Linked DNA regions of Homo sapiens: all the other regions are linked to region 3. The links come from fine-mapping of genetic effects on gene expression. A gene starts in region 3. Each other region holds a variant in brackets. All regions are shown on one strand. Distances are from middle to middle. Region 1 has its middle 12 kb from the start of AP1M2. Region 2 has its middle 5.5 kb from the start of AP1M2. Region 3 holds the start of SLC44A2 (solute carrier family 44 member 2 (CTL2 blood group)).

Region 1 (2,757 bases), 26 kb before region 3:
CCTGTCCTCAAGTGACCCTCCTGCCTCCCAGAGTGCTGGGATCACAGATGTGAGCCACCACTCCTGGCTGTAAACAGTCACTCTTATTATAATCTGCAGGACCACCACCTTTTTTCTTAAACTATTTTAAAAATTCTCATTTTGAAATGTAACTTTTTTATTTATTATGTATACAAACACACATATATATTTGCATCATAAATGTTATTCCCAATATGGGACAGATTCCTTTCAACCCCCAGGTGAATCACATGGTACCCTGGAAAGACCTAGGAAGCCCTCCCTCCCACCATCTCCAGGGAGGTAGTGAGAACGGCAGGTGCTGGGGACTGGGAAGGCTTTGGAGTTTCCCAGCCTACCTCTTCTCCCTTTCTCAACAAAGGATACCTGTTCCCTATTATTCCCCTTATCCACTCTTCCCTTTTTTAAAAAAAACCCACAAAACCATCATTAGTAAAAAAACAAACAAAACCCCTTCAAGTATTGGGAGTTAGGGGTCCTGGGCTGGGACTTGGAGTTACAGGTCACCAAGGAAGAGGGAAGGGAAGAGAAGGAGGGGCTGTCACTTACTACTGCTGGCTTTCTTCCTTGCTGCATGCTATGGCAACTGTGTGTCGACCTCCTTTGCTGGCAACTGCACGTATGGGACCACTGAGCCCGGAATGAAACAGTCCTTTTTAAAAAACTTTTTTTGAGACAGAGTCTCGCTCTGTCACCCAGGCTGGAGTGCAGTGGCATGATTTCAGCTCACTGCAGCCTCCACCTCCCGGGTTCCAGCAACTCTCCTGCCTCAGCTTCCCGAGTAGCTGTGAATACAGGCGCCCGCCACCACATCCGGCTAAGTTTTGTATTTTAGTAGAGATGGGGTTTTGCCATGTTGGCCAGGCTGGTCTCAAACTCCTGACCTCAGGTGATCCACCTGCCTTGGCCTCCCAAAGTGCTGGGGTTACAGGTGTGAGCCACTGCACCCAGCCTAGAAGTTCTTCACTGATAAAATGTGAGGATATTTCTCAAGGTGTGTGATACTGATGTCAGCTCATTTGATGTTGAGATACTGATCCACCGAATGGAGGGTGCCACAGATGTTCAGGTCTTTCTTGAGTTCCA[T/C]GACCACATTCATGCCCACAAGGGACTTGAAAAAAGGAATAGAAGAGCATGATGCTGGCGACCTGACCAGGAAGAGCAACACATATTTTATTTTATTTATTTATTTATTTGAGATGCTGTCTCACTCTTTCACCCAGGCCGGAGTGCAGTGGTGCAATCTTGGCTCACTGCGACCTCTGCCTCCCGGGGTCAAGCAATTCTCTGCCTCAGCCTCCTGAGGAGCTGGGATTACAGGCGCCCGCCGCCACGCCCGTCTAATTTTTTTTTTTTTTTGTATTTTTAGTAGGGACCAGGTTTCACCAAGTTAGTCAAGCTGGTCTTGAACTCCTGACCTTGTGATCCACTCAACTCAGCTTCCCAAAGTGCTGGGATTACAGGCGTGAGCCACCGTGCCGGGCCAGCAACACATATTTTAAAAGGGCAGAAGTCGGTTGGGCACAGCGGCTTACACCTGTAATCCCTGCACTTTGGGAGGCTGAGGTTGGTGGATCACCTGAGATCAGGAGTTCGAGACCAGCCTGGGCAACATGGCGAAACCCCGTCTCTACTAAAATACAAAAATTGCCACTGTACTCCAGCTTGGGCAACAGAGCAAGATTCTGTCTCAGAAAAAAAAGGCAGGCAGAGTACGGGGGAGAAGGTCAAGTATTCACAAACTAAACTAAGCTATGTAACTACAATTCTGTTTCCAGTGCCCAGAAGCTGCTCCTATCATCCCAGTAGTTATTACTACCCCAAAAGTCAACCACTGATATATGTTCTGTTACTATAGGTTGATTAGCTATGCCTGTTCTTGAACTTCAGAAAAAAGTGTGTGGTTTCTTTCACACAACATTATGCTTTTTGGGGAGAGATTCATCCATATTTTTGCCTGTATCAATAGTTTATTCCTGGACCAGGCGCTGTGGCTCACACCTGTAATCTCAGCACTCTAGGAGGCTGAGGCAGAAGGATCACTTGAGACCAGCCTGGGCACCCATAGGGAGACCCTCATCTCCACAAAAATTTAAAAAATTAGCCGAGTATGTCCAGGTGCGGTGGCTCATGCCTATAATCCCAGCACTTTTGGAGGCTGAGGGGGGCGGATCACCTGAGGTCGGGAGTTCCAGACCAGCCCGACCAACATAGAGAAACCCCGTCTCTACTAAAAATACAAAATTAGCCAGGCGTGGTGGTGCATGCCTGTAATCCCGGCTACTCAGAGACTAAGGCAGGAGAATCACTTGAACTTGGGAGACGGAGGTTGCGGTGAGCTGAGATCACACCATTGCACCATTGCACTCCAGCCTGAGCAACAAGAGTGAAACTTTGTCAAAAAAAGAAAGAAAGAAAGAAATTAGCCAGGCATGATAGTGTGTGCCTGTAGTCCCAGCAACGGGAGGCTGAGGCAGGAGGATCACTTGAGCTGAGGAGGTCAGGGCTTCAGTCAGCTATGACTGCACCATCGCAATCCAGCCTGGGCAATACAGCAAGATCCTGTCCCTAAAAAAAGAAAGAAGAAAACATTCATTCCTCATCACTAAGGAGAATCCCATGGTATGGGTGAAACCCACCATGGTTTGCTTCACCAATGATCTGTTAATGGGCATTTGGGCTGCTCCTAGTTTTTTTGCCCACTACGAATAAGGATACTATAAGGCTATCATGAAC
Region 2 (2,757 bases), 32 kb before region 3:
AGAATCACTTGAACTGGGGAGGCGGAGGTTATAGTGAGCCGAGATGGCACCACTGCACTCCAGCCTGGGTGACAGAGTGAGACTCCGTCTCAAGAAAATAAATAAATAGAATGAAAAATAAAAAGTTATCATCTGGCACAAGTCTCCTTCGTGCCATCTTATAAAGGTAGAAGCAGGGACACAGAGAAGTGAAGGCACCTGCCCAAGCCCACGGCCCCAGAGCCAGGAGGCAGTTGACCCAGAATTCGAATCTGAGTCCCGGGATTTAAGAATCTGGTCCCAGCCTGCTTCCGCCTGCTTTGCTATATTGCTGGATGCAAATATTACTATTAGTAACACTAACTCTGGCTTAAATGGTGCTCACCATAAGTGAGGGTGGCCCTAAATGTCGCCCATGCAGGAATCCTCAAGACAGCCCCTTGAATTACAGAAGCCTATTTTTTTTTTTTATTTATTTGAGACAAGGACTTGCTTTGTCGCCCAGGCTGCGGTGCAGTGGTGCAAACACGGCTCACTGCAGCCTCAACCTTCTGAACTCAAGAGATCCTCTCACCTAGGCCTCTCCAGTAGCTGGGACTACAGGTGAGCAACACCACTCCCAGCTAATTTTTAAATTTTTTTTTTTTTTTTTTTTGAGACAGAGTCTTGCTCTGTCGCCCAGGCTGGAGTGCAGTGGCGCAATCTCGGCTCACTGCAACTTCCGCCTCACAGGTTCACACCCTTCTCCTGCCTCAGCCTCCGGAGTAGCTGGGACTACAGGCATCCGCCATCAAGCCCGGCTAATTTTTTTGTATTTTTAGTAGAGACGGGGTTTCACCGTGTTAGCCAAGATGGTCTCGATCTCCTGACCTCGTGATCCGCACACCTCAGCCTCTCAAAGTGCTGGGATTACAGGCGTGAGCCACCGTGCCTGCCCAATTTTTAAATTTTTTGTAGAGATGGGGTCTCGCTACGTTGCTCAAGCTGGTCTTGAGCTTCTGGCCTCAAGCTGTCCTCCCACCTCAGCCTTCCAAAACACTGAGATTACAGACACGAGTCACCTCCCCCAACTCTATTATCTTCATTTGACAGATAGGGAAACTGAGGCCTTGAGAGAGTAAGTGATTTGTACAATGTCATCCAGTCAGAAGAAGCAGAGCTGGGATTTGAGCTCTGGAAAGCACAAGGTTTTTTTGTTTTGTTTTGTTTTTTGTTTTGAGACAGAGTCTCGCTCTGTC[G/A]CCCAGGCTGGAGTGGAGTGGTGTGATCTTGACTCACTGCAACCTCCGCCTCACGGGTTCGAGTGATTCTTCTGTCTCAGCTTCCCAAGTAGCTGGGACCACAGGTTTGTGCCACTATGCCTGGCTAATTTTTGTATTTTTAGTAGAGATGGGGGTTCGCCATTTTGGCCAGGACGGTCTCAAACTCCTGACCTTGTGATCCGCCCGCATTGCACGTTGGCCTCCCAAAGTGCTGGGATTACAGGTTTGAGCCACTGCACCCGGACTTTTTTGTTTTTTGAGATGGAATTTCACTCTTGTTGCCCAGGCTGGAGGGCAATGGTGCAACCTTGGCTCACCATACCCTCCGCCTCCCAGGTTCAAGTGATTCTCCTGCCTCAGCCTCCCAAGTAGCTGGGATTACAGGCATGCACCACCATGCCTGGCTAATTTTGTATTTTTAGTACAGACAAGGTTTCTCCATGTTGGTCAGGCTGGTCTCAAACTCCCGACCTCAGGTGATCCACCCACCTCAGCCTCCCAAAGTGCTGGGATTACAGGGGTGAGCCATCGCACCTGGCCCTGATTATTATTATTATTATTATTATTATTTTTGAGGCAGGGTCTCTGTCACCCAGGCTGGAGTGCAGTGGTGTGATCTCAGCTCACTGCAACCTCCACCTCCCCAGGTTCAAGCAATCAAGCAATTCTCCCACCCCAGCCTCCTGCACAGCTGGGACCACAGGTGCGTGACCACCACATCCAGCTAATTTTTATACTTTTTGGTACAGACAGGTTTCACAATGTCGCCCAGGCTGGTCTCCAACTTGTGGACTTAAGTGGTCCACCCGCCTCGGCCTCCCACAGTGCTGGGATTATAGGCGTGAGCCATCTCGCCCAGCCTAAAGCCCAAGACTTTATGTTGCTTCTGCCCAAAGGAGGGGGGTGGTCCTTCATGCTCCCAGCAACTGCCTGCTGAGAAGGTCACCTAGGGGGATGCAGTCACTGCTAGGCCCTCACCCCAGCCTAGACATTGCTGAACCTCAAAATAACTCGTCTCCTGGCAGCCGGGCGTGGTGGCTCACGCCTGTAATCCTAGCACTTCGGGAGGCTGAGGTGGGTGGATCACCTGAGGTCAGGAGTTTGAGACCAGCCTGGCCAAAATGGTGAAACCCTGTCTGGACTAAAAATACAGAATTAGCCGGGGGTGGTAGCACATGCCTGTAATCCCACCTACTCAGGAGACTGAGGCAGGAGAATCACTTGAAACTGGGAGGCAGAGGTTGCAGTGAGCCAAGATTGCGCCATTGCACTCCAGCCTGGGGCAATAGAGTGAGACTCTGTCTCAAAAACAACAACAACAACAAAATGAAGAACTCATCTCCTGGGGCCCTGAGATGTTTTCAGGCAGTAAGCAGAACCCGAAAGCCTGGGCCCAGTGCCCTGGAATCTGAAACTCCAGGCTTGTTTGGCATGAAAAATTCATGAGCCCAAAAGCTTACTTGGGGTCAGAGAACAGAGCAGCTCTGTGTGCTGGCTCTGCCTGCCCCGCCTGCCCCAC
Region 3 (2,757 bases):
TGCCTTGTTGGCCAGGCTGGTCTTGAACTCCTGACCTCAGTGATCTGCCCGCCTCGGCCTCCCACAGTGCTGGGATTACAGGCATGAACCACCACACCCGGCTAATTTTTGATTTATTGATTGATTGATTTTTTGAGACACTCGCTCTGTCACCCAGGCTGGAGTGCAGTGGCACGATCTCGGCTCATTGCAACCTCCGCCTCTCGGGTTGAAGTGATTCTCCTGCCTCAGCCTCCCAAGTAGCTGGGACTACAGGTGCACACCACAACATCCAGCTAATTTTTGTATTTTTAGTACAGACGGGGTTTCACCAAGTTGGCCAGGATGGTCTCGATCTCTTGACCTCATGATCCGCCCACCTCGGCCTCCCAAAGTGCTGGGATTATAGGTGTTAGCCACCACACCCAGCCTATTTTCTTTTTTCTTTTTCTTTTTGGAGACAGAGTCTCACTCTGTCCCCCAGGTTGGAGTGCAGTGAGGCAATCTTGGCTCACTGCAACCTCCACCTCCTGGGTTTAAGCGATTCTCCTGCCTCAGCTTCCCAAGTAGCTGGGATTACAGGCATGTGCCACCACACTGGCTAATGTTTGTATTTTTAGTAGAGAAGGGGTTTCACCATGTTGGCCAGGCTGGCTTAGAAATCCTGATCGACCTGCCTCAGCCTCCCAGAGTGCTGGGATTACAGGCATGAGCCACTGCACCTGGCCTATGCCTGCTCTTTGAGGTCAGTTTTGGTTTCATACTTTAGCCTCATTTTGCAGTTGAGGAAACTGAGGCTTAAGGAAGATAAGCCCTTTGTTAAGTATCCTCTAGTTCAGAGGGTGCAGAAGGAGCATTTGAATTCAGGGCGACCCAGGAGGATGTGGGCTCCACAAGGGTGGAGATTGGGTCTCTCTGGTTCCTCACTGTATGCGGTGCCCCGCCCAAGGCCTGCACCCACTAAGGGCTGAATAAATACTTGTTCTAAGACCAGGCCCAGTAGTGCACGCAGGTAATCCCAGCACTTTGGGGGGCCACGGTGGGAGGAGCCCACGAGTCCAGGAGTTAAAGATGAGCCTGGGCAACATAGCAACATCCCATCTCTACAAAAAAAATTAAAAATTAGCCGAGTGCAGTAGAGCACCTGTAGTCCCAGCTACTCAGGAGGCTTAGTCAGGAGGATGGCTTGAGGCAGGGAGGTCGAGACTGCGATGAGCTGTGATTGCACCACTGCACTCCAGCCTGGGCAACAGAGGGAGATCCTGTCTCAAAAAAAAAAAGCAGCAGACAGAAAGAAAACTAATTTCCTGCACAGCTTGGAGAAGTTTTCAGCACCAACATTCCACAGTTGGTTGTCTGGGTTTGGGCAGTAGGCCGTTTTCCCTCCCAGTGCCTCAGTTTCCACACCTGCAAAACGAAGCCACGGAAACGCCCTTTCAGGGTGGCCAGGGGTTCTAGGCGGCATCGCCCGGTGGCAGGGTGTTCCCAGGGTGAAGCCGCAGGGTTCCCGGGTGGGGGCGGGGAAGGCTAAATGCGGCCGGCCGGTGAGTGGCGGGAGCAGCTGCAGCCCCGCCCGCGCCCTCCCGGGTCCCTTAGTCTGGGCAGCTGCCCAGCTCGGGCCGGTCTGACCGGTTTGGGCCGCCCCGCCTGGCGCTGTGCTGGGAGGAGCCGCCGCCAGTCGCGCGGTCAGTGCCTCCCTCCAGACTCGGGAGGGTCGAGGGGGCGCGGGAGAGAGCGCGGGCGGCCGCCGGGGCTGGTCGCCTGCAGGGATGGGGGACGAGCGGCCCCACTACTACGGGAAACACGGTAGGCAGCGACCCCCGCCCGTAGCCCCGGGCCGACCCCTCGGTCCCTCGGAGGGGGCCTTGAGAGAACATGGGGCGCAGGGAAGGGGGCTGGAGGGGGAGCGCAATTGCAAATCTGCGCCTGGAGCCTCCCCACCATCAGCCAGGCCCCTTCACCCCACTTATCCCCCGCAGCCTCGCAGACGACCCTCCTTACTCTCCCCTACCCGAAGGACCTGCCCCTGTACCCCTCTGCCTGGCACTGCTGCCGGCGCCTCCTTCCCCCTATCCCACCTCAGATCTTCCCCATCTCCACCTGGTTCCGTGGTGGTCACCATTTCAGCCCTCTTCCCAGTGGGTGGCCGCCAGTTAATAAGTTTGTTCACAGTTAGTGATCCCTCCTTCCTCCCCTGTCCTGGCCTGCCAGAACTGGGGGCTTGGGTGTGGTCACCTGGAGGTGGGTGAGGCAGAAAATTCCACAGGTCTCTGAATTTTATTCTTGCCAAGGCAAAGACACCCCTAGGGGCTTTTGGGAGGGGGCTCTCCCAGCCCTGTCTTGGTTCAGGTCTCCAATCCCATCCATCTTAATCTTCTTGACTTTCAGGAACGCCACAGAAGTATGATCCCACTTTCAAAGGACCCATTTACAATAGGTAAGAGCTCTGGGTTTTGGGGGGTTCTCCCCGCTAATACTACCCCAATCCCTGTCTCTTCACACCCCCTCCCATCTGTTCTCCAACAAACTGGTGACAAATATTTGAAACTTTTTTTTTTTTTTGAGATGGAGTCTTGCTCTGTCACCAGGCTGGAGTGCCGTGGCGCGATCTCAATCTCGGCTCACTGCAACCTTCGCCTCCCGGGTTCGAGCAATTCTCCCACCTCAGTCTCCCAAGTAGCTGGGATTACAGGCTTGCACCACCACACCTGGCTAATTTTTTTTTTTTTTTGTACTTTTAGCAGAGATGTTTCGCTGTGTTGCCCATGCTGGTCTCGA

The links.
Region 1: its variant is fine-mapped to the expression of SLC44A2 in whole blood (INTERVAL, PIP above 0.99).
Region 2: its variant is fine-mapped to the expression of SLC44A2 in whole blood (INTERVAL, PIP 0.97).

The regions. Positions count from the first base shown.
Region 1 is chr19:10,597,811-10,600,567 of GRCh38, forward strand. It overlaps the pseudogene LSM2P1. Among named protein-coding and RNA genes, the nearest start is that of AP1M2, 12 kb to the left of the region's middle. The variant T/C (reference allele first, on the strand shown) is at 1,108.
Region 2 is chr19:10,591,387-10,594,143 of GRCh38, forward strand. No RefSeq gene overlaps it. Among named protein-coding and RNA genes, the nearest start is that of AP1M2, 5.5 kb to the left of the region's middle. RefSeq lists enhancers at 1,207-1,731, 2,258-2,757. The variant G/A (reference allele first, on the strand shown) is at 1,218.
Region 3 is chr19:10,623,886-10,626,642 of GRCh38, forward strand. It overlaps SLC44A2 (solute carrier family 44 member 2 (CTL2 blood group)), which reads left to right and starts at 1,668. Exons shown (of 22, transcript NM_020428.4): 1 at 1,668-1,785; 2 at 2,368-2,416. The coding sequence starts at 1,749. RefSeq lists an enhancer at 126-707.